Homo sapiens: one gene and its partners. The protein of the gene in region 1 interacts with the protein of each later gene in a pairwise test. Each region holds a gene or a part of one and is shown in the gene's direction. Other genes may lie near its edges. The genes, in order: TRIM9, VASP and EVL.

What was found.
Region 2: the proteins of TRIM9 (region 1) and VASP interact in binary tests that used the Homo sapiens proteins (3 or more experiments, as listed by UniProt).
Region 3: the proteins of TRIM9 (region 1) and EVL interact in binary tests that used the Homo sapiens proteins (3 or more experiments, as listed by UniProt).

What each region holds. Positions count from the first base shown.
Region 1 is NC_000014.9:50,973,428-50,983,004, reverse strand, and holds the end of TRIM9 (E3 ubiquitin-protein ligase TRIM9), read left to right. Parts: intron 1-39; coding exon 40-63; intron 64-505; exon of another isoform or gene 506-682; intron 683-901; coding exon 902-1,205; intron 1,206-3,455; coding exon 3,456-3,618; coding exon of another isoform or gene 3,619-3,714; exon of another isoform or gene 3,715-5,642; intron 5,643-5,651; coding exon 5,652-5,714; 3' UTR 5,715-7,739; downstream 7,740-9,577. UniProt on the Homo sapiens protein: E3 ubiquitin-protein ligase which ubiquitinates itself in cooperation with an E2 enzyme UBE2D2/UBC4 and serves as a targeting signal for proteasomal degradation.
Region 2 is NC_000019.10:45,515,317-45,526,553, forward strand, and holds part of VASP (vasodilator-stimulated phosphoprotein), read left to right. Parts: intron 1-2,346; coding exon 2,347-2,518; intron 2,519-2,612; coding exon 2,613-2,778; intron 2,779-5,633; exon of another isoform or gene 5,634-5,927; intron 5,928-6,005; coding exon 6,006-6,090; intron 6,091-6,851; coding exon 6,852-6,901; intron 6,902-7,023; coding exon 7,024-7,265; intron 7,266-7,401; coding exon 7,402-7,502; intron 7,503-8,327; coding exon 8,328-8,379; intron 8,380-8,524; coding exon 8,525-8,561; intron 8,562-8,780; coding exon 8,781-8,826; intron 8,827-8,960; exon of another isoform or gene 8,961-8,997; intron 8,998-9,253; coding exon 9,254-9,344; intron 9,345-10,629; coding exon 10,630-10,687; intron 10,688-10,823; coding exon 10,824-10,861; 3' UTR 10,862-11,237. UniProt on the Homo sapiens protein: Ena/VASP proteins are actin-associated proteins involved in a range of processes dependent on cytoskeleton remodeling and cell polarity such as axon guidance, lamellipodial and filopodial dynamics, platelet activation and cell migration.
Region 3 is NC_000014.9:100,122,910-100,134,146, forward strand, and holds part of EVL (ena/VASP-like protein), read left to right. Parts: intron 1-629; coding exon 630-693; intron 694-3,797; coding exon 3,798-3,862; intron 3,863-5,609; coding exon 5,610-5,839; intron 5,840-6,653; coding exon 6,654-6,775; intron 6,776-7,422; exon of another isoform or gene 7,423-7,551; intron 7,552-7,727; exon of another isoform or gene 7,728-9,809; coding exon 9,810-9,870; intron 9,871-10,137; coding exon of another isoform or gene 10,138-10,250; intron 10,251-11,237. UniProt on the Homo sapiens protein: Ena/VASP proteins are actin-associated proteins involved in a range of processes dependent on cytoskeleton remodeling and cell polarity such as axon guidance and lamellipodial and filopodial dynamics in migrating cells.

The sequences.
Region 1 (9,577 bases):
ATCTCTCTCCCCCATGCCTTTCACTTGGAATGACAACAGTTGACATTAAAAAGCTGTTGGCAGGTATGGAATAACCTTATTCTGTTACCAAATAGCAAAGACCAAAGTGCATGTGAGGTGTCTCACAGGTTTAATAAATCAGCAATTACATCTCTCGAGTGTGATATTTATAGGTGGCATTTAGAACTTGGGGCGTAACAATGCGTACAAAGACATCATTCTATCTGCACCTAATGTCCGAAATTCCTACTGCTCCAGCAAAATTTCTGACGTGTTAGTTTCAGGAGTAGCACGCAAACTGTGTTTTTTAAGTTATGCAGACAGCAACCTGTCCTACATGCAAGTCACAATCACTCATGAAAATTAGTTTATGTTGCTTATAGCTTCGCAGCTTGTGAGCTTTCACTAGAGCCGAGGAAGACTTCAAAGCGACTAGATGTTAGCACTTCTGCCGAAGGGATATTTCCTGATTTCACTCCATGTGTTTTATCCCTCCTCCATCTAGGACTCTAGCTCCTAGCCTCCCCGCCTCAGGGGTTACACAGGCATCTTAGCGCATCCCCTCTCCCTTTATGTCTCTGGTGCACTGTTCTGCCAGTCACCAGGTGAAGGGACTTGCACCTTCCAAAATCGATGCCACTTCACTCCCGGATCACCTGGTTGGGAGTGCAGTCTGAGCCAGGTAACCCCTGCTGAATCGGTCGTGTGTCCTCCGTCTGCTTCTGGTGCAGAGAGTACCAACTCCCAGGACGTGCCCCTGTCTGCCCTGGCCCTGGACGCCTCCTTCCTGCATGGCAGCATGAAAACGCTACACAACGCTCCTCACCCGCCCAGGAGTATGTTATGGTGCTGAGCTTGTTGGGTCTGTCTTAATAACCTGATTCCCTTCTGTTGTTCCCAGTGGCCTGGTTTGCTTTCGACCCTGGCTCGGCGCACTCGGACATCATCCTCTCCAATGACAACCTGACAGTGACCTGTAGTAGCTATGATGACCGGGTGGTGCTAGGGAAGACTGGCTTCTCCAAGGGCATCCACTACTGGGAGCTCACGGTAGATCGCTATGACAACCACCCTGATCCTGCCTTTGGTGTGGCTCGCATGGACGTGATGAAGGATGTGATGTTAGGAAAAGACGACAAAGCTTGGGCAATGTATGTGGACAATAACCGGAGCTGGTTCATGCACAACAACTCGCACACCAACAGGTACCCTGCAGCCCCCAAACCAAGCCTTCTTCACGTTGGCTTCTGATCAGGAGTGAGAGCCCCAGTTCAAAAACCTATTACATAGACCACATTCAGGAAATCAAACAGGTGGTCTACATTAAGTAGCACAGGCAATCTATGAGCCTCAGCTGAGTCCATGCTGGTGGTTTACTTTCTATATAATGATAGAGACTTGAGTACTTTCCTACTCCCTTCATTGCTGTATTTCACCCATGGCTGGAAACTAAGAATCCCAATGGATATCCATTATAAGAAAACAATCCAGGATGCTGAAACACCCAGACCTACAACTTAACAGAAAAGCACTTTTGGGCAAGTTACTTCGTTTTTTGAACCTCAGTTTCCAAATCCATCAAATTAGTACAATAAAATTTTTCCTTGTGGGAATCTTCTGAAGATTAAATGAAATATGTGAAAATGCCTTACATTGGAAGCACCTGAAAATAGTAGCCATTCTTCTTATTACGATTCATTAAACTAAAGCTTATGGATGCCAATTTGAATGGCTTTCTACTTATAGAGAACTCTCTTATTACTGTATTAATCCAGAGCAGCCAGTTTGCTAAGGAAAGGAAATACAGTAATCTCCTTGAGGTTTTCTTCTACCACCAAAATATAGATCATTATAATTGAACACATACTATAATGGATTTCCTTTCTCATTTGATTGTGTTCCTCAAATGTATTTTTCACAAATTTCCTAGGCAGAGAAATTTCTACTGTGGACCCTGGTCCACCTTATGCTCCAAGATTTCCCCAGGATACATTCTCATTAGTGTCTCTGAAAAAAAAAAAAAATACAGTAGTGTTCAACCAGATCAAAGGGAAAGCAAGTCAGACATTGGTAGGATAATTGGACCCCACTGTTTTATCTTTTTCTGTATGCTCATCACTGACCCTTCTCCAGCCTGTAGACTCCTAAAGCCTCCTTTTCCCTTGGATAGCTTCTATAGCATTCAAGTGTGTATTATTCGCTGTCACTTGAAGTGAACACACACACCATTTCACCATGAAAGCAAATCCTACTGGATGTAGATAAGTGGTTATCTTCAGTGATCGGCATTTTGTGGAACTCTCTGTCAATAGATTCTCAGTGCTATCACCCAAATGCCACACTTACTTTTTCCCTTTTAGCGTCTTTGTTTTGAAGTGCAGGAGTGAATAATGACATAACCATCACACTATGCAGAGAAACACATTCTTAATGCTGAACACATCTGCTTGCATGCAACCTGCATGTCACTTGTGCTTTCATTGTTAAACCTGTGAAGTAGCAAGAGGCAATTTGTAAACCTGTCTTTTAATGACTATGTACAGTCTGTATCCTGCATGCAAGAGGAAATGAATGACACAAATTCCTGTGCTCTGCTGAGATGAGGACGAAGTTCAATATTGCTAGATCTCAAAAAAATGGGAAAGACAAATCTGATCGTCCATTTTTAATGGCATTTTGTGAAACCATCAATTGAAGCATAAGACACAATTCTTTGTAAAATGGCATTTGTATGCAGGTTCTTTAAAATCACTACATCTCAGAGTATAATTATTTCACTGTACAGAGAAGAAGCCTCTTCTTCAGTGCTGTCATTTCACAGACAGCCTCCAAGTTCTTAATTCAAATGCAACAAGCCAAAAAACTGCTATCCTTCTGGAATGAGTTTTTCTGTTTAATGGATAACATAAGGCCCCAAATCCAATTTCTCATGCATGTGGTTTAGGTGCAACAAAAGTGCTTCTTATTTTGACTTTCAAATTAAGTCACTTTGTATTTAATGATATTTAATTCACACCATTTATACAAAGTGTGCAATATTCCTAGAGTCAGAGCTCTGATAGCCCAAAGGCGACTTTTTCCTAGTCTTTAATGTTTGGTTTTCTACTGCTGTGACTCAGTGGTAGAGACCCTAATGAATGAGTTCACTCTCAGCAACAGCAGAGCAACTCACAAGGGCAGATATCTCCCCCTAGGAAGTGAAAATTGATGGTGGCAGGGAGGGAGCAAAAAATCATACTCTTGTTATGTATAAAACACAGATATACACACAGTACCAACAGGTATACAGTATATCTGCGGTATTAAAATTTATGTGCAAGGGATGATTAGGGAAACGGTTTTGGGGTAGTGATGATTATAAACAGGTTGCAAGACACTGGTTTCACCACACAAAAGGGGGGAGCTTCTAGAGTGACCACAAGGAAATGAACCCCAATTTTTCTCTTTTCCTACAGAACTGAGGGAGGGATCACAAAAGGGGCCACAATTGGGGTCCTCCTCGACTTAAATAGAAAAAACTTGACATTTTTTATCAACGATGAACAACAAGGTCCCATAGCATTTGATAACGTGGAGGGCCTCTTCTTCCCTGCGGTCAGCCTGAACAGGAACGTGCAGGTAAGCACCCTGCCCCTGAGGTTAAACAGCTGTTGCTGGCTACCGGTTCAAAGGCTGCCCAGGGCCGTTCAATCCAACCGAAGAGAGGGAAGCTGACAGCGTAAGGCCCAGACCAAGATATGAAGGAGAGGAGGAGAGAAAGGGATCAGCACTGGCAACTTATTTTATTCCACGCCAAGCATAAGCACCTTCTTTATACTTGGACGCAGACTAGTTAATAGCACATAGGAAACTAGAATTCTCTTCATGGTTGGCTAATGATCATCTCTGTAGCTCTAGTTTCACCTCTAAATAGAAACGAAAGCCTTTAACCAACTGGCATGAAAACAAATAGAATGACTTAACAAAGCTCAGGAGTGCCTGAGAAGAGGTGAGGGTGTAAGACTGAAGCATTAGTATCATTATCAGAAAATCTGAGCATCTTCTCTGCACTCTTGTTTGGCTCTGTTAGGTCCTAAGGGGTAGAAAACATAGTCCCTACCTACAACTTAGTCAATTATTATTTATTATAGAATAAAACAACAGCTTCTCATTTATTCATTCAGCAAATATCTATAGAATGCCTTTAATGTGCCAGGCACAGTTATAAGTGTCTGGGATACATCAGTGAAAAAAAAAAACAAAAAAACAGATAAAAATCTTGCCTTCATAGAACTTACATCTTAGTGATAGGAGACAGACAATAAATAATAAGCATAATTACAATGTTAATCAGATGGTGTGTCAGAAGGTGTTTAGTGCAGTGGAGAAAAGACCAAGGGCCCATGAGTGGTGTGGTTGGGAAGGGCAGCCACAGTATTGCGTAGGTAGGGCTTATCGCAGTTACCGGTGAGCTGAGCCTTAAAGGAGTGAGGGAGTGAGTTGCGTGGAGCCTTCCAGACAGAGGGAACAGCCTGTGCACAGTTTCTAAGGCATGAGGGGCCTTGCATGGGCAAGGAATGGTGGAGAGACTCTTGGGCTGGGGCCTGGAAGGGGGACCAGAGCCATGCATGGGGGAAGAGCTGTGCCCTGCCAGCCGCTGTCAGGACTTAGGGTTTCACTTCCCTCCTGAGCTGGGCATCTCATTAACAACTATGAGCCTCATTCCACAAATGGTTGTCTTGAGATAAGGCTTGAGAATTACAGGTGACTTTTGCCCTATCCAGAACCAGCCTTGGAAACTATTTATCAAAATTCATTGTTGTGTTTCAGTATGTGCAGTAACATTGATTGCAAACTAGCAGCCCCTGCCCTTCTCCCTGCAAGGAGATGGGGTTTTCTAGAAGGCTGGAATCTAATCTTTCAGAGTTCAGCCTCTACACTTTAAGAAAGAAAACCATAAATTACCCTAGAAGCGAGTCTCAGAAAAACCCCATTCAAGGTTTTTCACATTAGCCATTTCCCTTTCAAAGAATATTATACTAGATGCTCTTCAGGGGTTTTCAGGACCTTCTGATTATCTATTGATAAAGACTCTTGGGCTGGAGAAGACAGGGATAAGAACTGCATGAAATGGTTCTAGTTTTATCCATAGCTATCCATTGAGGTTTGGGGATACACGGAAATTGGTAAAATAGTATAATGCCATGTTTTTTCACAACTGGCAATCATCTATGCGACCCCAGAAAGAAATGTTTGCCCTAATTACAATAACTAGTGGACAAGTAATAAGGGAAGTGCTGTCTCTGCGAATCTGTCCTCTATCCATGGATTTGGCAGTGGTCACTGTGGTGTGGCCAGTAGGCTCCTCTATCTGAAAACCAAGGCCTGTGTCTTCAGTTATAAGGAACACAATCTCCCCGGAATCCTTTAAAAGAGGCAGGTGACTAAGAACCATATAATCAAATGTCACCAGGATTTGAGAGCCCACCATGGTGAGCAGCCTGTTACCATAGGCAGGATTCTTCTTGAATTCCGTTTAATGCCTGCTAGCCTAGATGTTTAAAGCGAAGCAAACAGAACACTTTTTGAGTTAGGGACACACCCACGGTACACTGTGTAAAGGGACAGGGGGATGCACGATGCCTCTCAGGACTCACAGTCTCATTCCCCAGGTCACGCTGCACACCGGGCTCCCAGTCCCCGACTTCTACTCCAGCAGAGCATCAATAGCCTAAGGATGTGCCGTGGAGGCGCCAGCTGCCTGTTCTTACCTCCGCCTGCGAGAGCCACAGCAAGGAGCTCAGCCAGCCGTGGTGGGGTGCAGAGTTGGCAGGAGTGGGAGAAGGAGGAGAGAAAAGCTGGTCCTCTGCAGTCTTTACACCCACAGCTCTGCCCTTTTCCCTTTCAACCTCTCCTCCGCTGTCATGCCTGCTTCCGCTTCCATGTCCAACAATTCTAACCAACAAAGGACCTAGACAGCCCACCAAGTCACTTGGTTCCCACTCCCAGATTTTGCTTTTATTTAACTTAATTTTTTATGTAGGTGAGTTATATTTTCTTTCTTTTCTGATCAGGTTATTGGTGACTTACTGGACTGGCACCGCCAGGAGAAAATTCTCCTGCTAACTTTTTTTCTTAAGCTTTCTGTCAAACAATGAGGTTGTAGGGGGAGGTAGGGAAGAATGAGCTGAATTTGTAGCATACAGCTTACCTGCTAGAATGTTCTTACCCTCTTACCTCTCCTGTAGCGTTAGCTCTGCAGAGCTAAGCTTTGGGAGAATGAATCTATCACTGAGAAGTTTTACTACTCATTGAAGCACAAAAATATCCGCTACACAGGTTCACATCAGGGTAGGATCGTTAGGATGGCTCTATAATTAGGATAGGCCAGAACCCTGGCCACTGTATAAAATTGGAAAGTCTCTAAGACACAGGCAAACCAGGGGACTTAATGATTTGGTTCGTTTATTTAATAAAAGCTTTTAATTGAGAACCTACTATTGACCAGGCACTGTTCAAGACACTAGAACATTATGTTCTAGACACTGTGGGGACACAGTGGTGAACAGACAGGCATGGTCTCTGCCCTTCGGAGCTTATATTCCAGTAGGAGAAAAAGCAAAAATAAAATAATTATAAATGGTCATATGTACTAGAAAGGAAATGGGCAAGGGTCAAAGAGACTCATGGGCAAGATCTTTCAGGCTTCCTAGAATGATGCTAAAAATCCACACATTCTGGCCATAGCACCAGAAATGTACCAACTCAATGCCTTTTCAGCTGCACTATTTAATTATGGTACCTGCTGCCACTCATCACAGAGCCCTTCTTGGTAGAAATGATGTCAGCATTCTTATTTGCTGATGCTGCTATGATACCACGCCTTAAAAATTGACAGTTGAAAAAAAAAAGAGTGACCAGAGGGCAAAGGACCCATTCTCAGTAATGGGAGATCTTGAGTTGCAGTCCACAGCATTCACATTCTCAGGATAAACATGCTTGTCTCCATATATACTATCTGTGCCTGTTATGAATGAAAAATCCATCCACTCTGCTGCCATTCACAGCCTAATTTTCTGGAGTAGTCCAAACAATGTTTGGAAAAACATGGGACTGTATGTCATTACTATGACTGATAGCAGAATAATAATGCATCTTACTTCTATATAGAGATAGACTTACATAGGTTACCCTTGAAATTCATTAGTTTGTCATAAAGTTTTAGGAAAGGTAGGACCCGGAAAGAAGTTCTAATTAGTTGTCTAAATATTTTTCAGTGAGCCAAGAAATTCACCATGAAAAAACAAGAATAACAAATAGAAGGGAAGAGATAGGATGGGAAAGCTAACAAATTAAAGTTTTGGCAAAAAGGAATATATGTAAATAGCTAATTATTTACTTTTGTGCTTACTTTATTTAGATTATTTCTATCAGTTACAATCTTTTTCTAGTTAAGTGTACCTAATTTATGGAATGGGTGCTATCCTGTTTATGTGTGTCTTGGTTTTTCTTGGCTACAGAAAAACTGTTGCAGGGCAACACTAGTTTGATATTTGATTTACTCTCCAATGAGACTCAATGGCTGGGCCGTGGTAGACTCATAGTTCCTCTTGTTCTTTATTAAATTCATCCTGCTAATTAGATTTCTAGTGACTTGTAACATGTAGTTTACACTGAATTGCAATTACAGATGCATACAACTACTATACTAGAAAAAATTGTCATTTCTGATGTGCCAATAAATGATTTTTATGAGAGAATAAAATGTCTCTAGAATTTCTTAGTTTTTATCTATTGCGGATGACAATTCACCTTTGTCAGAGCGATGTTTCTTCAGGAAGATCTCATTGGAAAGGCCCCCAGAGCTCTGGAGAGCATGTGTTCTTTCCCCTGTTTCCTTGGGCATGTGGCACTGCCTTTTGGTTTTACTCATATGAAATTTAACCTGATGTGAAATGTCCAGTGGAGATGTCTGGGGTCTGCTTCCAAGTATTGGGGATTTACTTCTGTTTTTTTTTTTTTTTTTTAGACGGAATCTCACTCTGTCACCAGGCTGGAGTGCAGTGGCGCAATGTTGGCCCAGTGCAATCTCCCCTCCTGGGTTCAAGCAATTCTCCTGCCTCAGCCTCCCGGGTAGCTGGGACTACAGGCACACACCACCACGCCCAGCTAATTTTTTTGTATTTTTATTAGAGACGGGGTTTCACCATGTTGGCCAGGATGGTCTTGATCTCTTGACCTTGTGATCCACCCGTCTCGGCCTCCCAAAGTGCTGGGATTACAGGCGTGAGCCTGGCCTACTTTATTTTTAAAAAGCCACACATTTGGCTTGCAATTTTATAGTACTGCAAAACAGAGTGTCACTGACTTTTTCAAACCTAGCTCCTTTAACATTTCTTTGAATGGCAAAACAATAATTACAACATTATTCATCTACCTAACATTGTTGTTAGCCACTAAAAAAACACTTTGTTTCTTGATTAAAGGAAAAACATTACCTACAAATATATGGTCTGAGTTATAACCTCACAGAGTGGAATAGTACACAGTTGGTAGCTGCTGCTGCTCTCCGTTGATTCCAGTTTCTACACATTCCTCTTTCTGTCACGGGATCCTTGGGGTGTCACTTCTCCAGCCAAAAACCTCTGTGGCTGGCAGCGCCTTCTGCCTGAGTACTGCCTGCACCTACTGGGCTCATTCTGCCCACTCGGCCTGGCAGGCTGCACTCGGCTCACACTACCAGCCTGGATCCCACACCTGCTAAGGGTGAGTCAGGTGTGGAGTGGCAAGGGGTGTGTGGGCAAGTGAGCTCTGGGTCTGGCCACTGCACACAGCCAGGCAGGCCAGCTGCTGTGGCAGGGCAGGCAGCTCCAGGCACCAGCAAAGTTGTTGGCTCTGTAAGAGGCTATGGCTGGACCAGATGTACTGCACACAGCTTCCACTACAGGAACATGCATCTGGCTGAAGGGTATGTGGTGGCACCCGGAAGCTTGGAGATACCAGGAACCACAGAGCCCCAAAGAGGGTGTCACAGCCCTGGCTCCAGGAGCCCCTAGGTATGGGCTCCCAGAAGGGCCACAGCTCTTCTCTCCTTCTCATCACCTGCAACATGGTGAGCTGAGGGTGGTGGCTGAGGGTTTCAGCCCTGTTTGTGTTACAGCTCTTTCAGTCCCACCATTCAGCAGGTCCCAAGTTCTTGTCCTGTATCCAGGAAGAGTGAGGTACCTGCACAACTGGAGGGTGAGCAAGGCAGAGAGGAGCTTCATTGAGTGACAGAACAGCTCTCAGGAGACCTGAAGTGGGTAGCTCCCTCCACAGACAGGTCACCTTGATGTCTGTGCAGACCCCAGCAGAGAGGAGACCCAGAGTGGGTAACTCCTTCCTGCAGCTGGTAGTGTCGACGTCTGGCTGAGCACAGGGTTTTCATGGGCTCAGAAGGAAGGAAGTGTGTACTGAATGATCCATAGGCAGGCATGGATGGGCCTGGAAACAGCATCATCAGTTCTCACTCTGGGCCACGGACTCACCCCAGAACTGGCAGCCTGGCCCCCAGGCTTCAGGCCATCCCTGGCTTGAAGGTAGGGGTTTCACCAGGGAC
Region 2 (11,237 bases), on another chromosome or scaffold:
CTTCCCCTTCCCCTGTGTGACCTTGGGCAAGTCACTTCCTGTTTGAGTTCCTGTCTAGGCCTGAGTTTCCTCACTGGGGGAGAGGGGATTGAACCTCCCAGAGGGGCTGGTGGGAGGGTCCCGAGGGTTGTAGCTGTCCCGGGCCCCAGTGGTGCCCATGAGAGGGATGTTGACAGTTACTGAGCTCTCGGCGTGTGCTGGACGCTGTACCAAGCACTTAGCTTTTTTTCTTTTTTTTGAAACAGAGTTTCACTCTGTCGCCCAGGCTGGAGTGCAATGGCGTGATCTCAGCTCACTGCGGCCTCCACCTCCTGGGTTCAAGCGATTCTCCTGCGTCAGCCTCCTGAGTAGCTCAGACTACAGGTGCACACCACCACGCCCAGCTAATCTTTGTACGTTTTTGTAGAGACGGGATTTCACCATGTTGCCCAGGCTGGTCTCGAACACCTGAGCTCAAGCGATCCATTCACCTCAGCTTCCCAACATGCTGTAATTACAGGCGTGAGCCACCACACCCGGCTGTACCAAGCCCTTTAGGTGCCCAGATTCATGTGCCCCTCCCCCACTGCCCTGGAGGTGGGGACTGTCATTTTCCCAGTTCACAGGCAAGAAGAGGTCTTGAGTGGGAAGGTCATGTGCCTGAGTCACATGAAGTAGGTGGCTCAGTGGGGATTTGAACCCAGGTCTGGGGATATCAGCTCCTGAACTCTGCACCAGTTTACTGACACCTCCCACCCAGGCTAAGTCAGACGTTGCCTTTTCCAGGAAGTCCTGCCTGACTCTCCAGGCTGGGGCAGGCGTTCCTTCAGGGTACCCCCAGACCCTGGGCTCCTTGGTCCTAAACCTGGGTTGGTACCGTCTGGGGACAGCTGTGTCTCCCACACTGGACTGTGAGCCCCAGGAGGGTGGTGCCGGAGCTGTCTGGGTCACTGCTGTGTCTTCATCCCCAGCCCCACCCAATATAGGCCAGACACAGAGCAGGGAGTATCTGGGGAATGGCCGCTAGTGCCCTGGGGAGCCAGGCGAGGGGTGGGCAGCGGGAAGTCCCTTTGGAGGAAGAGCTCAGAGGTCTGGGATGGGTCCCCAACCTGCTGCAGGCCTCACACTTCCCCTCCCAAGCCTCAGCTTCTTCCTGAGCAGGCAGTGGTGGAGGGGGGTGCGTAGAGATAGGGAAACTGAGGTCAGGCAGGGGCTGGTCCCTAGTGCAGCTCTGGGCTCTTGGCCTCCTTCTGGCCCCTCTGTCTTCCCTCCTGCCCTCTGCTCTGCTAACCCGCATCCCCCCACTGGCATTGGCCTCGGCCTCTTACACCCCTCAGCCTGTCTCTCCATCTTTATCTTTTCCTTCTTATTAGTTTTGTTGTGTTGTGTTTTTTATTTTTCATTAAAAAAGTTTTTTTGTGGACTGGGTGTGGTGGCTCACCCCTGTAATCCCAGCACTTTGTGGGGCTGAGGCAAATGGATCACTTGAGCCCAGGAGTTCGAGACCAGTCTGGCCAACATGGTGAAACCTCGTCTCTACTAAAAATACAAAAAATTAGCTGGGCTTGGTGGTGCATGCCTGTGATTCCAGCTACTCAGGAGGCTGAGGCGGAGAATGGCTTGAACCTGGGAGGCAGAGGTTGCGGTGAGCCGAGGACAGCCCGGGTGACAGAGTAAGACTCTGTCTCAAAAAAAAAAAAAAAAAAAAAAAGATTAGTCGGGTGTGGTGGTGCATGCTTGTAGTCCCAGCTACTTGGGAGGCTGAAGTGGGAGGATCGCTTGAGCTCAGGAGGTCGAGGCCACATTCCAACCTGGGTGACAGAGAGCAAGACTCTGTCTCAAAAACAAAAATAAAAATAATAATAATAATTATTATTATTAGAGATGGGGTCTCACTATGTTGCCCAGGCTGCTCTGAAATGCTTGGGCTCAAGTGATCCTCCTGCCTCAACCTCCAAAGTGCTGGGATTACAGGTGTGAGACACCACGCCAAGACCATCTTTATCTCTTTCTGTGTCTGCCTCTTCCTCCAGGTCCCCTGTCTGCCCATCCTTTTTCCCCACCCCTCCCCCATCTGTTCATCTGTCTGTCTGCCTTCAGTCTGTCTCTCCTCTTTGTCAACCCGACTCTCCCTTTCCCACCTCTCTCTGCGTCTGTCTCTTGCATCTCGTTTGTGTGTTTGCCTGTCTCTCCTGATCTGATTTTCTCTCCTGATCTGTCTCCCCCGTCTCCTTCTGTCCACGTGGCTCCTGCCTCCCTCTGTGTCACTCTCTTCCTTCCACACACTGTCTTTGTCCCTTGGAATCTCCCAGGAGAGACCCAGATAAGAAGGTGACCGGCCCCTCTCCCTTTTCCTCCCGCCTGCAGCGAGACGGTCATCTGTTCCAGCCGGGCCACTGTGATGCTTTATGATGATGGCAACAAGCGATGGCTCCCTGCTGGCACGGGTCCCCAGGCCTTCAGCCGCGTCCAGATCTACCACAACCCCACGGCCAATTCCTTTCGCGTCGTGGGCCGGAAGATGCAGCCCGACCAGCAGGTGCAGCTTCCCGCCGGCCCCCTCTGTGGGCTGAACCCCTACCCGCCCCACCCCTGCGCCCGCCGCCCCTCACCCCCCTTTCCCCTCCCACCAGGTGGTCATCAACTGTGCCATCGTCCGGGGTGTCAAGTATAACCAGGCCACCCCCAACTTCCATCAGTGGCGCGACGCTCGCCAGGTCTGGGGCCTCAACTTCGGCAGCAAGGAGGATGCGGCCCAGTTTGCCGCCGGCATGGCCAGTGCCCTAGAGGCGTTGGAAGGTCAGAAATGGCGGCGGGCAAAGGGGACCAGTGAATGCGGCTGTGTGGCCTGGGGCTGCCGCTTTACCCTGCTGGGACTTGGTTTACTCGTCGGTAAAATAGAGCGAATTCATTGTTATCATGGAAAATTATCACTAGCATTTTGTGCATTCCAGTGTGACCGTGTGCACCTATGTGTAAAATGCACCATTGGCCCGGCGCCGTGGCTCATGCCTGTAATCTCAGCACTTTGGGAGGCCGAGGCACACGGATTACCTGAGGTCAGGAGTTTCACCGTGCCCAACATGGTGAAATTGCGTCTCTATTAAAATTCAAAAATTAGCTGGGCGTGGTGGTGCGCGCCTGTAATCCCAGCTATTCGGGATGCTGAGGGACGAGAAGTGTTTGAACCCAGGAGATAGAGGTTGCAGTGAGCCGAGATCAGGCCACTGCACTTCAGCCTGGCGACAGAGCAAGATTCCGTCTCAGAAAGAAAACAAACACAAAAAAAATGCACGATTACTCAGGGATCAGTACTCCATGAACTTTACACAGGCACACTCCCGGGAAACCACCTCCCAGATCAAGACATAGGTAGGTCCTGCCCCAGAAACAGGATCTCGCTCTGTTGCCCAGGCTGGTGTGCACTGGCACAATCATGGCTCTCTGCAGCCTTCACCTCCTGGGCTCAAGTGATCCTCTTGCCTCAGCCTCCTAAGTAGCTGGGAATACAGGTGTGCACCACCATACTTGGCTCTTTTTTTGTTTTGTTTTTTGAGACAGAGTCTTGCTCTGTCACCCAGGCTGGAGTGCAGTGGTGCAACCTCAGCTCACTGCAACCTCCACCTCCCGGGTTCGCGTGATTCTCGTGCCTCAGCCTCCTGAGTAGCTGGGATTACAGGCATGTGCCACCATGCCCAAGCTATTTTTTTGTATTTTGTTTTTATTTTTATTTTTTTGAGACAGAGTCTCACTCTGTTGCCCAGGCTGGAGTGCAGTGGCACGATATTGCCTCACTGCAACCTCCGCCTCCCGGGTTCAAGCGATTCTCCTGCCCTAGCCTCCCGAGTAGCTGGGACTATAGGCGTGAGCCACCACACCCGGGTAATTTTTTGTATCTTTAGTAGAGACAAGGTTTCACCGTGTTAGCCAGGATGGTCTCTATCTCCTGACCTTGTGATCCGCCCGCCTAGGCCTCCCAGAGTGCTGGGATTACAGGCATGAGACACCATGCCCGGCCCTTGTATTTTAGTAGAGAAGGGGTTTCACCATATTGGCCAGGCTGGTTTCAAACTCCTGGCCTCAAGTGATCCACCTGCCTCTGCCTCCCAAAGTGCTGGGATTATAAGTGTGAGCCACCATGTCTGGCCACCTGGATCATTTCAAATTTTTTTTTTTTTTTTACTTTTTGTGGAGATGGTCTACAGGCTGGTCTTGAACTCCTGGGCTCAAGTGATCCTCCCACTTCAGCCTCCTAAAGTGCTGGGATTACAGGCATGAGCCACTACACCCAGCCCAGTTGCTTTTTTTTTTTTTTTTTGGAGACGGAGTCTCGCTCTGTCCCCAGGTTGGAGTGCAGTGGCGCGATCTCCGCTCGCTGCAAGCTCTGCCTCCCGGGTAAATGCCATTCTCCTGCCTCAGCCTCCCGAGTAGCTGGGACTACAGGCACCCGCCACCACATCCAGCTAATTTTTTGTATTTTTAGTAGAGACGGGATTTCACCGTGTTAGCCAGGATGGTCTCGATCTCCTGACCTCGTGATCCGCCCGCCTCGGCCTCCGAAAGTGCTGGGATTACAGGCGTGAGCCACTGCGCCCGGCCTTTTTTTTTTTTTTTTTTTTTTTTTTTTAATATGGAGTCTCACTCTGTCTCTCAGGCTGGAGTGCAGTGGTGTGATCTCAGTTCACTGCAACCTCCGCCTCCTGAGTTTAAGCAATTCTGCCTCAGCCTCCTGAGTAGATGGAACTATAGGTGTGCACCAACATGCCTGTCTAATTTTTGTAGTTTTAGTAGAGACGGGGTTTCGCAGTGTTGGCCAGGCTGGTCTCGAACTCCTGACCTCAGGTGATCCACTCGCCTCGGCCTCCCAGAGTGCTGAGATTACAGGCGCGAGTCACGCGCCCAGCCCAGTTGCTATTTCTTAAACCTTAACGTGCACATGAATCACCTGGGGATCTGGTTAAAGTGCAGGCTCTGGTGCAGGTGGGCTGGGCGGACTGAGACTCCACATTCTCACAAGTGCCCTGGTGATACCCAGGCTGCTGGTCTGCGGACGTGACTGAGTAGTGAGGTTTTAGGTGACTGCCGTGCATCTGGCCTGGAATCACTGCTGTAGAACTGAAAGTCACCAAATGCAGGGGTGTTTGCTTCGTGGGACAACTTCTGTGCTAGTGCGGAAGGGGCTTGCTCCTCTGGGGCACACAGAAAAATACAGTGGGCTTCAGTTGAGTCATCTGTAAATTGGGGCTAATTCATTGTTAATTCGTAGCCAATTCAATTCAGGTGCTAGGGCCAGAGGCCTGGAGGTAGGTGAGGAAGAAGCTCTTTACCTTTCCAGGTTCTTAGGTAAGGTCCAAGTGGCTGTAACAGTGGTTAAGAGCTAGCCAGGGGCCAGGTGCGGTGGCTCACGCCTGTAATCTCAGCACTTTGGGAGGCTGAGGCAAGTGGATCACTTGAGGTCAGGAGTTCGAGACCAGCCTAGCCAACATGGTGAAATCCCATCTCTATTAAAAATACAAAAATTAGCCAGGCATGGTGGCAGGCGCCTGTAATCCCAGCTACTCAGGAGGCTGAGGCAGGAGAATCTCTTGAACCCGGGAGGTGGAGGCTGTGGTGAGCCGTGATTGCACTGCTGCACTCCAGCCTGGGTGACAGAGTGAGACTCTGTCTCGAAACAAACCAACAGTGGTTAAGAGCCTGGCTGCTGGAATCAGCCTGAATTCAAGTCTTGTTCCTGCACATTCCACCCTGGAGAAATCTGGGGCAAGTGACTGTTCCCCGGGCCTTAGCTTCTCCTGTCACTGGGACATCACAACAGCACCTACCTTAGGGCAACTCAGGCCAGGGAAGTTGGTGCTGCCTCACCTCCCAATGTGCGTCCTCCTGGGCCTGGAGCCTCAGGGCCTCTGGAAGGAGGAAGTGAGCGCCTCTGGGCAGGATTCCTGGGAGGCCTGGGAGAGCAAGGGAAGCGCCAAGAGCTGAGCAGAGTTCTGGGACTGATCCATGGCCCTTTCTCTCTCACCTTTCAGGAGGTGGGCCCCCTCCACCCCCAGCACTTCCCACCTGGTCGGTCCCGAACGGCCCCTCCCCGGAGGAGGTGGAGCAGCAGAAAAGGTGGGGCTGGGCCCTGGGTGGGGAACCTTAGCCGCTGCCAGAGTTCCATATGTTCTGGAACCCTTGACTCCTAGAGTTCAGAACCCAGCCAACTTGCAGTTTTCAGAATGTTCAAGAAACTTCTGACACTCAGAGTTGCAGAACCTCCTGGTCCCTGCAGATTCCTGGAAATCAGAATATGGTGGTTGAAAGAATCTTGTGGCTGGGCGTGGTGGCTCACGCCTGTAATCCCAGCACTCTGGGAGGCCGAGGCGGGCAGATCGCCTGAGGTCAGGAGTTTGAGACCAGCCTGGCCAACATGGCGAAATCCCGTCTCTACTGAAGATAACAAAAATTAGCCGGTCATGGTGGCGCCCGTGCCTGTAATCCCAGCTCGGCAGGCCGAGGCAGGAGAATCGCTTGAACCCGGGAGGCAGAGGTTGCAGTGAGCCAAGATCGAGCCACTGCACTCCAGCCTGGGTGACAGAGTCTCAAAAAAAAAAAAAGAAAAGAAAGAATCTTGGGCATTTTGTAATTCGGTGTTCCTGACAGTTTAGTGACTGGGATCTCGCATCCTGATCTCTCCCTGTCGCTGCCCTGCCCTCCATTCCCCCTACTCTCACCCAGCCCCCTTCTTGGTTCCCTAGGGGAGGAAGGCTTGGGTGAGTATTAGGAGCCAGCCACCCTGGAGACCTCTGAGAGAGAGGACGGAGGTCGCTGGCCCCTTCGCTGGCCATCCTTAGGGCCCTGATTGACGGCAGCTCTCTCGCCTCCCCCCACAGGCAGCAGCCCGGCCCGTCGGAGCACATAGAGCGCCGGGTCTCCAATGCAGGTGATGCTCAGATAGCTTCGGGAGTTGGGAGGGGGCCTCCCTGGAGGAAGTGGCCAGCCAGCTGGACAGTGAAGAATGAGGCTTCTCTCTCTCAGCTGCCCCCTTTTCTGTGTTTGTTTCAGGAGGCCCACCTGCTCCCCCCGCTGGGGGTCCACCCCCACCACCAGGACCTCCCCCTCCTCCAGGTCCCCCCCCACCCCCAGGTTTGCCCCCTTCGGGGGTCCCAGCTGCAGCGCACGGAGCAGGGGGAGGACCACCCCCTGCACCCCCTCTCCCGGCAGCACAGGGCCCTGGTGGTGGGGGAGCTGGGGCCCCAGGCCTGGCCGCAGCTATTGCTGGAGCCAAACTCAGGAAAGTCAGCAAGGTGAGGGGCCGGGAGAGGTGGGCAGGGGGCAACAGGGCTTTTATGGGGGATGAGGCCAGGGCTGCCGGCGGTGTCATTGGGCTGGAAGGCCAAAAGGCCTGCCCCTAAAGCTCCTGCCCCTTTTAAATTTCTCCAGCAGGAGGAGGCCTCAGGGGGGCCCACAGCCCCCAAAGCTGAGAGTGGTCGAAGCGGAGGTGGGGGACTCATGGAAGAGATGAACGCCATGCTGGCCCGGAGGTGAGCCTGAGCCTGGACCCCCAAGTCACCTGGAGTTCCAGTTCAGTAGGGCCCAGTCAGAGGAGGGCTCCAATTCCTGTTTAGTTTGTTTCTTTTGGTGAATGTTCCCCCTTTGATAACCAGGTTTGGGATATAATGGTGGGGTTTGTCATGAAATGCCTGAGGCTTGCAACCACCTAGGTAGCCTGTAGATGTTCTAAAACCCAGAATTCTAGAACCGTAGGAGATCCTGCCTCAGAATTCTGGGAACTCAGGTTCCTGCAATCTCAGTGTTCCAACACAGCACCGCTCCACCCTCGGAATCTTACTGTTCCCTAATATAAGAATCATAGAACCTCCTCCACCCTGATTCTAGAACCACAATCTCTTGAATTTTTTTTTTTTTTTTTTTTTTTTTTTTTTGAGATGGAGTCTTGCTCTGTCACCCAGGCTGGAGTGCAGTGGTATGATCTCGGTCCACTGCAACCTCCGCCTCCTGGGTTCAGGCAGTTCTTCTGCCTCAGCCTCCTAAGTAGCCGGGATTACAGGCATGAGTCACCACACCCGGCTAATTTTTGTATTTTTAGTAGACACAGGATTTCACCATGTTGGCCAGGCTGGTCTTGAACTCTTGACCTCAAGAGATCCACCTGCTTCAGCCTCTCAAAGTGTTGGCATTACAGGCCACTGCGCCCAGCACAATCTCTTGAATTTCTAAAACTAGAGTTTCCTTAGGTTTTCGGAGTTCCAGAATTCTATGCGCTAGGATCTACATTTCTAGAACTCCCCTCAGAAGGGGATGGGTTGGGTGACGGAAGCACGTGTTTTTGCTTTTCTCTCCTGCAGAAGGAAAGCCACGCAAGTTGGGGAGAAAACCCCCAAGGATGAATCTGCCAATGTAAGTCAGGGACTCTTCTTGCCCTACATCTCTTAGGCCGTACCATGAGGGTAGGGATAGTGGGATGTGTGGGGTTTGAACCTGAAAGAGGAAATGGGCAGAGGTGTGGCAGGGGCTGGCTCATGGCAGTTTTATTTCCTACCAGCAGGAGGAGCCAGAGGCCAGAGTCCCGGCCCAGAGTGGTGAGTAGAGTGCCCAGTCCAGCCACAGGAACTACAAATCCCAGAATACTCTGTTCTCACATGTTAAGCACCCTTATAGGAGAGTCAGGGCGAATGGTGCTGGGGATTGTAGTCTCCTGAGATGGGGCTTTGATCAGGGGCTGATGAGGTTGGGGGAGTAAGATTGATTGGGGGGCAGTCTTTTGTCCCTGATCTTTCTGATTTCTTGCCTATCCCCAGAATCTGTGCGGAGACCCTGGGAGAAGAACAGCACAACCTTGCCAAGGTAGGCCATCGGTCCTGGGGCCCTTGGGGAGGTAAAGGCGGGCAGATCGCTTGAGCCCAGGAGGTCAAGACCAGCCTGGGCAACATGGCGACACCCCATCTCTACAAAAATTAGCCAGGCGTGGTAGCACTTACCTGTGGTCCCAGCTACTCAGGAGGCTGAGGTGGGAGGATTACTTGAGCCCAGGAAGTTGAGGCCTCAGCGAGCCATCATCATGCCTGCACTCCAGCCTGAGAAATAGAATGTGACTGTCTCAAAACAAAACACAACAAACCAAAACCAAAAAAAAAAAAAACTGGGGCCCCAAAAATACTTGGACTTGCCCAATTTATAAGGCAGAGCTCAATGTGACCCCTGGAATAGGAGGCGGGGAAGCAGGTCCTCTCTCTAATCTCATTGCTGTCCCAAACCACACCAACTCCCCCAGGATGAAGTCGTCTTCTTCGGTGACCACTTCCGAGACCCAACCCTGCACGCCCAGCTCCAGTGATTACTCGGACCTACAGAGGGTGAAACAGGTAACTTGGGGGGGAAGTTGGGGACCACAGCAAGAGAGATCTAGGTCTGGCCCCTGCCACTGGCATGCCGTATGATCCTAGATAACATCTCAGAAACCTCAGGTTTCCAATCTGACAAATGGAGAAACTGGATTGGGTCAAGGATGACCGAGACTCCACACCCCCTTTTCTGGCACCTGTGACAGACATTATTAATCTATCACCGCGCTCATTCCAGATGAGTGCCTTGAATTCTTTCCGCACATTGACCCAGCTGTCCATCACCAATTGGAGTTGGCAGGAGGCTGGAATGCGCTTGCCAACCTTGGTACTGGATGTTCTCCAGTACTTTTCCGGCTCCAAGGATCCAGAATTCTCCCCTAGAATCCTCCAGTCACTCTGCGACCTTGACAGCGATGTCATGGTGTCGATGTAGGGGTAGGTCTCAAACCTACTACCCCTGGCTTTTCCATCAACAAGAAAGAGGGGACTCTGGCAGGGCACGGTGGCTCATGTGTGTAATTTCAGCACATTGCGAGGCTGAGGTGGGAGCATTGCTTGAGGCCAGGAGTTTGAGACCAGCCTGGGGCAACATCGGGAGACCCCCATCTCTAAAAATAACTTTTAAAAGTTACCTGAGAAGGCCAGGTGCGGTGGCTCATGCCTGTAATCCCAGCACTTTGGGAGGCCGAGGTGGGTGGATCACCTGAGGTCAGGGGTTCAAGACCAGCCTGGCCAACATGGTGAAACCCATCGCTACTAAAAATACAAAAATTAGGCTGGGAATGGTGGCTCACAGCCATAATCCCAGCAGTTTGGAAGGCTGATGGGGACGGATCACGTGAAGTCAAAAGTTCGAGACCAGCCTGGCCAACATGGCGAAACCCTGTCTCTACTAAAAATACAAAAATTAGCTGGGCCTTGTGGGGGGCACCTGTAATCCAGTTATTTGGGCGGCTGAGGCAGGAGAATCGCTTGAACCCGGGAGCCAGAGATTGCAGTCAGCCGAGATTGGGCCACTGCACTGCAGTCTGGGTGACAGGGAGACTCTGTTTCAAAAAAAAAAAGAAAAAGAAAAAGTTACCTGATTGTGGCGGCAGGTGACTGTGGTCCCAGCTACTTGGGAGGCTAAGGCAGGAGGATTACCTGAGCCTGGGAAGTTGAGGCTGCAATGAGCTGTGATCATGCCATTGCACCCTAGCCTGGGCAACAGAGCAAGGTTCCTTCTCAAAAAATAAAAGAAGGGGGATTCATTCCTGCAAGTCCCGGTACCCCCTCCTGATTAGTTTTACCCCATTAATTTTAGGAGCTTCTGGAAGAGGTGAAGAAGGAATTGCAGAAAGTGAAAGAGGAAATCATTGAAGGTGAGGTGGTTTGCTTTGGTTTTGTTCTTAAACATTTACTTATTTTGGAGGCATCATGTCCCTGGGCAAGAGCCCTGTTTTGGAAGGGAGGAGGCAGAGACTCTGCCCCTGACCTCTGCTCCTTGTTTCCTTCCAGCCTTCGTCCAGGAGCTGAGGAAGCGGGGTTCTCCCTGACCACAGGGACCCAGAAGACCCGCTTCTCCTTTCCGCACACCCGGCCTGTCACCCTGCTTTCCCTGCCTCTACTTGACTTGGAATTGGCTGAAGACTACACAGGAATGCATCGTTCCCACTCCCCATCCCACTTGGAAAACTCCAAGGGGGTGTGGCTTCCCTGCTCACACCCACACTGGCTGCTGATTGGCTGGGGAGGCCCCCGCCCTTTTCTCCCTTTGGTCCTTCCCCTCTGCCATCCCCTTGGGGCCGGTCCCTCTGCTGGGGATGCACCAATGAACCCCACAGGAAGGGGGAAGGAAGGAGGGAATTTCACATTCCCTTGTTCTAGATTCACTTTAACGCTTAATGCCTTCAAAGTTTTGGTTTTTTTAAG
Region 3 (11,237 bases), about 49 Mb from region 1:
ACCAGTCTAGAACAAGGGGAGCAAGGGCAGGGTCTGGCTCCTTCCCACCCGCAGCTCCAGACACCCTTTGTAGACAGCAGGGGTCACCCCAGGTCTAGAAGCATAGGCCTCAGCTCAGACACACCCAGGTTTTAACTCTGACCAAGACATCCGCCAGCTGTCAGTGTCAGTCCTTTGCTCAGAAAGTGGAATCAAGTGGACTTGTTAGGTTTGGCAATTCCCAGTTCCCCGCTGATTTTAATTAGAACATCCTGGTGGGATGTAAAGAGGCCAGATTCAATGTTAAAGGGTTGAGGGGGTGGTGGCCAGCAAGAAGGTCGAAGCAGTGAGAAGATAGTTTGAGAGAGAAGGCGAGCAGGGTCAGTAACTGAAAGGGTTAATTTTTAACCATGTGAAAGTTTGGGTCTCATTTATTGGTTCAGAATGAAGAGCCGTGAGAGAGAGAGGGTGATTGAGAGAGGAGATGGAGTGAGTGATGCACAGGTGTGAGTGAGGCCAACATTTAAAAAGATTCTTAAGGATGTCTCTTCTGCAGCCAGAAGGTGGGCAGAGATAGAGAGCACTCCAGTTGGGTTTGCTGGGGCCTTTCTTCCTCTAACCACACTGTTTCTGTGCTTCTCTGCCCACAGGCCCCTCCAGCCAGCGTCAGGTGCAGAATGGCCCCTCTCCTGATGAGATGGACATCCAGAGAAGGTAACCCAGCACCCGCAGGGGCCAGGCTGGTCATCTCCCAATCAGGCTGGGTGGCCAGGGGTGCCTTCAGCGGGTGAGGATGCACCAGCAGCCAAGGCCAGGACTCCTAGAGGCATACACTGCGGGAGGGTGCAAGGTGCAAGCCAGACCAGGAAGAAAGAGGGGGCCGATGCGCAGCCGCTGGTCCCGGACACCAAGACCAGGAATGACTGTGGGAGTCTGGCATTCTACAGAGAGTGCTGCTGACCTCCAGCGGGACGGCTCTCAGGGTGACCCAGCAGGGCCCAAGTGCTGCTCCCTTGTTGCCTCACTTGCCCTTCCCCAACGTAGCAGGAGGCAGTCCAGGCATGAGGGATTCAGCCTGTTGGGGCAGTCACGCCCATGGGATGGGGCTAGGGACCATAGGAATGAACCCCCTCACCCCATGGAGCTTCTAAAGTGTTACCACAGTGGGGAAGAGGAAGGGCCAAGGCTGTTGTCCCGAAATTACAGAGTCGTGGTGAGTCCCCATGGAGCAGCCTCCCAAGGTCACATTGCTCTGAAATGGCAGAGTCAGGACTTGAACCCAGGTCTGCCCTCTCAGCGATGGGTCCTCTGCCTCTTCTGTGTCGAGGGAGGTAGGGCCTGGCCCGGGCCTTCCTCACTCAGCTTTGTCAGATAGGGAGTCAAGCTGCAGCTCTCTGTGGCTACACTTATGTCCAGCCCTGGACTAGGAGTCAGGAAAGCCGGCTTCTGCCCCCACCTACCCCTCTCACCAAATGGCATACGGACTTCTCCCAAGACCTCCTCTCCTCTGGCCTTTTCCTAAGACTGAGAAATGAATGCCTTGCAACCTTGGGCAAGTTCCTGCTCCAAGCCTCCGTTTCCCGGTTTGAAGATGGTGTTGGCTTTGCTCCCCACCTGTCTCACCCACTCACCCTCAGGGCTTTTCTTACTGTTGTCCCCATGAGCCAGCTGAAGCCGAGAATGGAAGTGACTTGCCCAGAGTAACCAGAGAGTCAGGCAGAACCTAGACTGGCAGTCAAGTCTCACTCCAGCTGCAGCTCCCTGCCGGGACCCAAGGCTGGTCCCACCCACAAAAGGGCGTGAAGGAGTGAGCCACCAGACGCCAGGTGTAAGCGTACAGGCGTGGATGGCTAAATGGGTACTTCATTTCTCTCGAAACTGCTTCATCACCCGCAGTGCTGAATTCTGTACCCCAGGGCCCAATCCAAGCTGTGTGGGGTCACTGGCCGTCCGGGAATGGGCATACCGCCTGGCGGTCGGGGTGTGAACAGCAGGGGACACACACACAAGCACATACACTTGTCCCAAGGCAGGACCACACACATAGCTGCCCCCAGACGAGACCACGTACGGACGGACACACACACCTGCTGCAAGACGAGACCACACACATGCGCACACACACACACCTGCCCCAAGATGAGACCACATGTGGATAGACACACACACACACACCTGCTCCACGGTGGGACCACACACAGACACAGACACACACACCTGCCCCAAGGCGGGACCACACACACACACACACACACACACACACCTGCCCCAAGGCAGGAATACACACACACACACACACACACACACCTGCCCCAAGACGGGATCACACACACAGACACACACACACCTGCCCCAAGGCAGGAATACACACACACACACACACACACACACACACACACACACACGGCAGGGAGACTCTCGCTTGTCCCACGCAACTTTACTGGAGGTGGGCAGGGGCAAGACTTACTCAGTGACGCAGAGACTCCAAGCATCCAAACAGTACCATAGGTTCAGACCTGACTTGAGTATTTTTCACACATCCTCATTTTACCATGGTGTTCTAGGTGTGTGGCTCCTGCTGGGGAGGTTTCAGCAGTTTGAGCAGAGACACTAATGTAGATGCTGCTGGGAGCTTTTCAGACCTTAATGCTAAAAGGGGCTTTTCCGTAATTTTTTTTTTTTTTTGAGATGGAGTCTTGCTCTGTCACCCGGGCTGGAGTGTAGTGACGCAATCTTGGCTAACTGCAACCTCCACTTCCTGGGTTCAAGAGATTCTTCTGCCTCAGCCCCTTGAGTAGCTGGGATTACAGGCGCGCGCCACCACACCCAGCTCATTTTTGTATTTTTAGTAGAGATGGGGTTTCACCATGTTGGTCAGGCTGGTCTCAAACTCCTGGCCTCGTCATCCGCCCGCCTCACCCTCCCAAAGTGCTGTGATTACAGGCGTGAGCCACCACGCCCAGCCATTCCATAATGTTTTAGTTAAGGCATACACCCTACAAGAACCCCATGAAATAGATGTTTCTGGCACTCCCACCAAGCCCAGAGCTGCCTTCAGAACAATCCTTAGCCCTGTGTTTCCACAGCACATGTTCAGTTTGCACCACACGAGCTGAGCTCTTGATGCTGTCTGTGGCCTGGATGATTTCTTAAAGTGCCTCCCACTCCAGAACTCGATCCCTGGATTCTGGAGATGTATCTGGGCCTCAGTGTCCTCACTCAGCTTGCCTTTAAGAGCACCCTGAGGCCACCCTGCCATAAGGCACTGGGATGTGAGTTCCCACTGCTGTGCACGTAGCAGTGTGCCACGGTGCACCAAATGGCCCTCTAGACGAAGGCGGGCCTATGACCGCTCAGTGGTAAAGAAAATGAGGAGTGTGGCCTTTGTGTCCATTTCTGCTGGCAACCAAAACACACCTGAGAACTGTCCCAGGAAGCTTGGCCAGGTCCACTAAGAACAGGCGTTCCTGAGGCTGGGTCTGTTGAGGCCACAGGCTCCCAAAAGCCAGGTGCGCCCATCTAGCCCAGGGAAGAGCTTGGTCACTCTGGGGAGTGGAATCACACTGGCCTTCCATAAGGAGCTCTGTGTTCAGTGTGCCTGAGACTCAGGAGACAGCCGGTGCTCCCACTTGCGGGAGCTGGACCCAGTCACATCCCCCTCCTCTGTTAAGTGGAGGCAGCCGTGGCACACAGTGGCGCTTGTGGAGCGCTGGCGAAACCTGACTCTGAAGCCGGGGCCGGCGGGTACAGCACAGGCACAGAGTGTGGTGGTCTCCAGAGTGGAGGAGTCAGACTGCCCTGCTGTGATTACTTTCCAGACAAGTGATGGAGCAGCACCAGCAGCAGCGTCAGGAATCTCTAGAAAGAAGAACCTCGGCCACAGGTGAGAGCCCTCCTCCCCTAGGGCCGACTCCCATGCTGCTGCCAGGTGGCAGCCCCTCCACGTAGATGAGGCCCAGGGACACACGGGGCGCTCTGTGAGCAGCTATGGGGAGCCTAGGTCTCAAAGTGCAACCACCACTTCAGATGGTGAGGGTAGCAAGAGAGCAGAGCAGAGGCTTGGGGAGTCTGCTCAGCTGGGTCTGGCCACTACCTGCCAACCTTCTCCGGAGTGGACATTCAGCAAGCACCTCCTGTGTCTCAGGCACCGTGCTAAGGGCTGGGGACACAACTATGACTGCAGATGCAGTTCCTGCCCTCAGGAAGCCCGCTGTCCACTCAAGGAGACAGTGAACCCACCCTTGTCATGTCACGTAGTGAACACTGTGGCAAGTGACGTGCAGGTGCTGAAGGCCTACCTTGGGTCAGGAAGACTTCCCACAGGAGGCGCTGCCACGCGTCTGTCTTGGACGTTCGGTGGAGCTTAGCACGTTAAAGGAGAAGGACGAGGGTTTTCCAGAAATTGTCATGTTCACTGATAGGCAAAGGACTGGATAATTTACCAAGTGCTTTCATGTCCTTTGTCTTGTTTAATTTTCTCAAACACCCTATGAAGTGAGCAGGTGACTATTATCCTGTTGACTGATGAGAAACCCGAGCCCCCACTGGTTACAGGAACGCTCTGCTCGTGAGATGCTGGCTGACCCCATCACCCCCACCTAGCTGCTGCTGGCCTCCTGCTCCCCGGCCAGTCTGCATTTCTGATGCAGGTCTGACACTGTCATCATGTCGTCCCTTCCCCATCACTCTTGGAACAGCCTGTGCCTGCCCTCTCTCCCTCTAGTGCCTCGCAAGCACTTCCCATCCTTTTCCTCCTTCCTCACACTTGCCTCCCCCCTTCACCTAACTGAACCCCTGCTCTCCGGTCGTGTCCCAGCTCCACAGTCACTTCCGTGAGGACGTCATGGAGGACGTCCGTCTTCCATGAACTTCTGGCCAGGCTGGAGCCCCTCTTTGTATGCCAACATGGCGCCGTGTGCCTGCCCTTGGTAACACTTGTCAGCTTGCCACAGTCCTCCATCTGCGTTTACCTCTGCGATTCGTTGACTGTTCCTCATAGGCTGTGAGCACCCTGAGCAGAGAGCTTGTGGCTGGTTTTCCTCAGCACCATACCCAGCACCTAGCACAGTGCCTGGCACAAAACAGGCTTAGGCAGCACTGGCGGAAGGGGCTGGATGGATGATGCTGGAGCCCAGCACTCGGCATTGCGCCCTGACCCATGCCCCCAGTCGGCCCTGGGACCCACAGGACCTGCCACGGCCCCCAACGACCCAAGTGTCAGTCACAGTTGGATCTTGGTGACCAACTTCTGCCTAGGGGGTGCTAGGTGCTTAGAAGGAGCAGAGAAGAGAAGAGGCACAGACTGTAACCAGACAGCTTCCTCTCCCCCTGGAAAAACATGATTGGAGCAAGAGGAAATTGCCTGGGCTCAAGGAATGTTAAGCAAATAGAGGACACCTGTGGGTCCAGCCAGGCCCCGGAGTACTGAGGACACCAGAATAGGGAATAATTGTGCCAGAGCCAAGTTCATCCCGCGGAGGCTTCCTGGATGAAGCAGGCCTGGAGCTGTTTCTCATCCCTTTGGGGAGCAGCCTGCCCCTGTCCTTCCTCCGGGGAACCTGAGCTGAGAGCAGCAGGCTTGGCCCCCAGCTGGGTGCTGGAGCTGGCTGAGCCTCACTGTTGTGTTTCAGGGCCCATCCTCCCACCAGGACATCCTTCATCTGCAGCCAGCGCCCCCGTCTCATGTAGTGGGCCTCCACCGCCCCCCCCACCCCCAGTCCCACCTCCACCCACTGGGGCTACCCCACCTCCCCCACCCCCACTGCCAGCCGGAGGAGCCCAGGGGTCCAGCCACGACGAGAGCTCCATGTCAGGACTGGCCGCTGCCATAGCTGGGGCCAAGCTGAGAAGAGTCCAACGGGTAAGAGCTCCTGTGTGCGGGGTGGGAATGGGACCGAGGGGACCCTTGTGCCATCTGCAGAGCGCTTGTGTTCCTTCCCGCATCTGCGAGACACAGCAAACTGCTTCCCTGCCCAAAGCTAGCTGGCCCTTGGCCACTTGTTCTCAAACGAGAAATCACATGGGACAGCACTTTGAAATTATGAAGTTAGCCTTTGAGCCTCACGTTGACCTTCACACGTGGGGCAAGAACTATGTCCCCCTTTAGAGATGAGGAAATTGAAGCACAAAGAGCACGAGTAATTTGCTCAAGTCACACCGTTTACAAATTGCAGATTTTGGACTCAAGCCTGGGTCTCCTGAATCTATGTCCATTGCCCTTTCCACTGTAGGAAGCTGTATGCTGGCAACTAGGTCCACCCGGCTGTTTCTTCCCTAACCCTTGCTCATATGTTCTAGAACTGTGCTTGTAAGAATAGCTCTAATACAGACCTTTGGCTTACATTGTGTTTCCTTCCCACAGGATAGTCTCTTCTCCCCTCCCTCCCTCCCTCCATGTGTCATGGCTGGTCTTGGCAAAGACACTAACCATGAGTCTGCAGGCCTGGGGAGTGTCTGCGACTTGTGTGACCTGGGCTGGTCCTTGTCCCTCTCTCGATTCTGGTTTTCTCCCCTGTGGGGTTGGAGAATAATGGACCAGATGGCCCCTGAGGCCCCTTGCAGTGCTGCTGCCATAGGATTCACACGCACACAGTCCCCTGCATCCCCTCACATCGTTGCTGCTCCTGTTCTGCCATCAGCAGCAGAATCTAAAACGCGGCCTCCTTTTTCCTCAGCCAGAAGACGCATCTGGAGGCTCCAGTCCCAGTGGGACCTCAAAGTCCGATGCCAACCGGGCAAGCAGCGGGGGTGGCGGAGGAGGCCTCATGGAGGAAATGAACAAACTGCTGGCCAAGAGGTGGGTCTCTACACCTCCCGAGACTTGGTGTGCCTAGCAGGAAGCTCCTGCCCCCGCCCCCAGCGCTGCACAGAGAATCCTCTCTTGACCCCAGAATCTTTGTTCCCTGGGTTTAGCCAAGCAGGGGAAACTGTTACTTAAGTTTTCCCTTCCCAAGGGGTTAGTCTGAAGCGCAAGCCCACAGGAGTCCTCTAAACTCCAGATCCTTCATTTTAGCTCAGCAAATATTTCCTGAAGCATCTACCATGTACCAGCCCTGTCCTGAGCAGAGATAAATGTGGAGACAATTTCAGAGATAAATGCGGGAAAAAGAACAGTCCTTGCTCTTAAGATCCTAACAGAAATAAGATGTGGCCGCAGTGGTCGAGTTTGCAGAGGACACTCTGGTGAATGTGTGGTGAAGGCACCCCATTCTCCAGGGTTCTTTATGGAGGACTCAGGAGAAGGAGTTATGAAGGGTAGGAGCCCAGAGGGCATTGCCCTGAGCGACGGAGAGAGAGTAGTTCCATCTACATCCCGGCCGGGCTCTTGGGCCTGAGACCTGGCCATGTGTGTCTGCTCGCTGCAGCGGGTGTGGCTGCAGCCTGCCATTGTGGCTCTCCGCTGTTCCCCAAATGAAACCCGAGCAGATGGGGAGATCGTCCAGGTCTTTCTCAAAAGGGATGCAAAGCTTGGATTTTATTTTTAAATATGACTTGGCATCAGGAATGTGCTCACCTTGGACTACCAATATCGTGGCTCACTTAGGCACCAGAGGGCACGGGAGTAGGCCTCACCTGCCAGAACAGAGGAAGCTGCAGCGGGGGCCCTGCTCCCTTGGTAACCCCACCTCCACCCCCTGCCACTTTGTCGCCTTCTCCTGGCCCTCCCAGCTGCCTTCCAATTGGCTGACCCAAGTGAGAACTCTGTGTGCCCAGGGTCTTCACACTGCAGTCCTAGTTCCTCTCATTACCTTCCCGTGGCTCCATGAGGATGATGCGAGATGACAGAGGCCCACAGCTGCAGGCAGCTGGTGTGGCGCTTCATGGCAGGGCCACAGCCTGGGTTTCCTGCCAAGGGGCTCTTTGCTTGCATCACAGATGGCAGGGAGGGGAGGCTCCCCGTGTGTCAGGGAGCAGCAAGGTGGATCCGCAGCACGGGCGTCTCCGGAGCCTCTACTGGGCCTGGGCGTTTGTACATCGCCAAGACAGGAGGCAGGCTTCTGAGCAGTTTCCTGTGAGAGTAAGTCCAGGTGTGTGGGGCTTACAGTGGCCACACAAAGGCGAATGGCTCCGTGGGTGAGAGAGCCGGGAGGGCTCGCAGAACGATGAGGACGTCCCGTGCTGTAAGAGGGACAGTGGGCAGAGTTAAGGTAAGGCTGGGAAGGCTGACGCCCCCTGTGCCTGGAGAGCTAGGTGTGGAGGAAATGGACCAAAAGTCAGGCTGGAAGAGGGAGCCTCCTGGTGCAGGGCATCGGGTTCCACCTCAGAGCACTCAGAGGCGAGGATGGGCCACAGAGAAATAGAAATAGTTTTGGAAAAGAAAATATGAATGCTTTCCCTAAGTCCTAGACCAAGCTGAGGGGAAGCACCTTTCTGTCTGAGAACAGGAAAAGGCCAGTATTGCCAGGAGCCAGTGAGATGCCAGATGCCGGTGGGAGAGTCAAGGCCCTCCCAAGAACAAACATGCTTTGCATAGCTCAGCAGGGATCAATCAGGTGCTCTCTGAAATCCACCTCAGTGATGGCTACTGGGTGGAGCCGACGATGAAAGTGCCCTTGCCAGGTTTCTTTTCATGTAGGTTGTCTCCCGCCTCTGAGGGCATGCAGTTGAGTCTCCCAACAGTGGAGGGCAGGAGGGAAATGAACGTGGACAGAAAGCTCCTGTTCAGCAGCACTTTCACAGACACTCATCCCGCCTACACTCCCCGTGAGCAGGTGGCTTGGTCAGCGTTCTGTTTCTAGGAGATGGGACACTGGCTGCTGGGGGGTAGCTGGTGAGGTGTAAGTGATCGTGGCTAGGCCAGTTAGGAGACTCTGACAGTCCAGGAAGAGATGATAGGGGCATGCAGGAAGGTGTTGAAGGTGAAGACAAAAAAGACAGGCAGGTACCCAGATTTAGAGAACTGACCAGGCTGACAGTTATAAGAAGCTGGTGTCAGGGATGATTCCCTGGTTTCTGGGCTGAGGGACGAGGTGGGCAGACCTGTCCTGAGATGGGAGCTAAAGAAGGGGGCCCCTGCTGTAGCTGAGGAGGCTGCCAGGTAGGCCCATCACAGACAGGTGACAGCCTGGCCACGGCCCATTATCACACCTCAGACCAGCTCCATGCTTGATGGGCAGCTCATCTCAAGTTGAAAAGCCACAGAAGCGTATCTCTGGGAAACACTGAGGGTCTGCCTGCCTCTGTAGACCTGGGAGGTCAGCAGATACCACTGAGGCCAAAAAATATGGGTGAGGTTTTAGAGTACATGAAACGGGGATTCATACTGGGGAGGTGCACGAACCGACTCAAGGGCGTCACGTGGACCTATTCCAGGGCTCCTCTTCTGAGCATTTCCAGGCTCTGAGTGGCATTCTAGATTGGGGAGGGCGTGGCTGGGTTAACTGAGTTCCAAGACACAAGGGCCTTAGAGTGACACAAGAAAGTGTCCAGTGTCCCGACCTGTGGGACAGACTGCAGCCCAGAGAGATGCCTCTCTGTCCCGTGTGGCCAGGCCTTCAGTGTCCTGGGGACAGAGCGTGCCCGCCTCCCCTCCACGCCTCAGATGCTACAGCTGCTGCCAGTAGAGCTAAACAGACATAGAGGCATCTCGCCCTCTCTGCCTAGACCAGTTTTGTGTCCCAGGCCATGACCACACGGAGGGCCTGGACATTTGCCTGGGCCTGGCTCCTCACCAGACGGGGCCTAGACAAGCCGCCTCCTTCACGCCATCGTTTTCCCACACAGGTTTATCTGAGGACCGGGGTGAGTCTGGCAGGGTGGAGGCAGAAGAGTTCTGGGACAGTGAGAGAACGTGAGGAGCTGATCTGTATCTTCCCCTTCTCTGTGCCTAGGAGAAAAGCAGCCTCCCAGTCAGACAAGCCAGCCGAGAAGAAGGAAGATGAAAGCCAAATGGTGAGCAAGCAGCCCGCCCCACCCTCAGGCTCCCCACTGAGATGAGCGCATCGCCAGGGAGGCTCTCTGGTCTCAGGCGAGGCCTTTGGGACATGCGTGGGATGGGCGCTTCATCAGGTGATTCACAGGAGGGGCGGAGGGTCTCTGCGGTGCTTGTCCCTGCGCCACCCTGGCCCCAGCAGCAGGCCTGCCCTCACTGAGCACCCCCTACCAGACACTGCTCCACCCTTGGAGCTGCAGCCTGAGGCGCTGGCCGCTGCACCGCAGGGCTACCTCGCCTTCCCAGGAGCCCCGGGGAGCACAGACCAGCCAGGGTCTCGGCGGGACTGGGACTCCAGGAGTACACTGCAGAGGGGCACGTCTGCCAGAAGCCCAGAGAGGTTTTTATTTTCAAATTATTTCTGTTTCTAAAGACTCCTCTTCCAGCAGGAGCTTCAGGTGAGCTGTGGCAAAGGAGCCCTGGACCCCTGGCTCTTGTCCTTACCAGGCAGCCCAGAGCCAGCCTGGCTGCCAGAGCTCCCAACATCTGCTTCCAGTTAGGGCGGCTAATTCTCTTTTCCTCCATGTTAAGCTTTTCCTATAAAAAGACTCCTACTGACAGGGCTAAGTTTAGCCTTAACTACAAATGCCTTGAAGGTTCCACCTCAGTGCAGAATCAGAGAGGAAATAAAACTGCCAGGGACCAGAGCAGGCTTCCTGCCCTGTCCTCCCATCAGTCAGGGTCATGCTGGTGTTACCCTGAGGCTATAGCCCTCCCAGCTGATCCACGCCTCTCAGCCCCGTCCTGGGCACATATGGGTCCCTTTGCCCCACCAGCCAACTCCCATTCAGCCTGCACTTCCCTGCATCACCCTTACACCTTAAAAAACAGCCTCCCGGCCGGCTCAACACTTCACACTTGTAGTCCCAGCACTTTGGGAGGCCGAGGCAGACGGATCACCTGAGGTCAGGAGTTTGAGACCAGCCTGGCCAACATAGTGAAACGTCATCTCTACTAAAAATACAAAATTAGCGGGGCATGGTGGCGCATGCCTGTAATCCCAGCTACTCGGGAGGCTGAGGCAGGAGAATTGCTTGAACCTGGGAGGCGGAGGTTGTAGTGAGCAGAGATCGCACCATTGCACTCCAGCCTGGGCAACAAGAACGAGACTCCGTCTCAAAAACAAAACAAACAACAACAACAAAAAAACAGCCTCCCGACCCCCAGGCCTCACAAAGCTCCTCACTACTTGATCCCAGCCCCGGTCTTCTCCCGAGGCCCTCTGCACAGGCACGACTGCTTGTGGAGACTCGTTGTCTCCTGCCAGATCTTAGGCCCTTGGAGGGCGAGGCCTGGGCTTCTCACACGTCCACCATTCCCATACCTT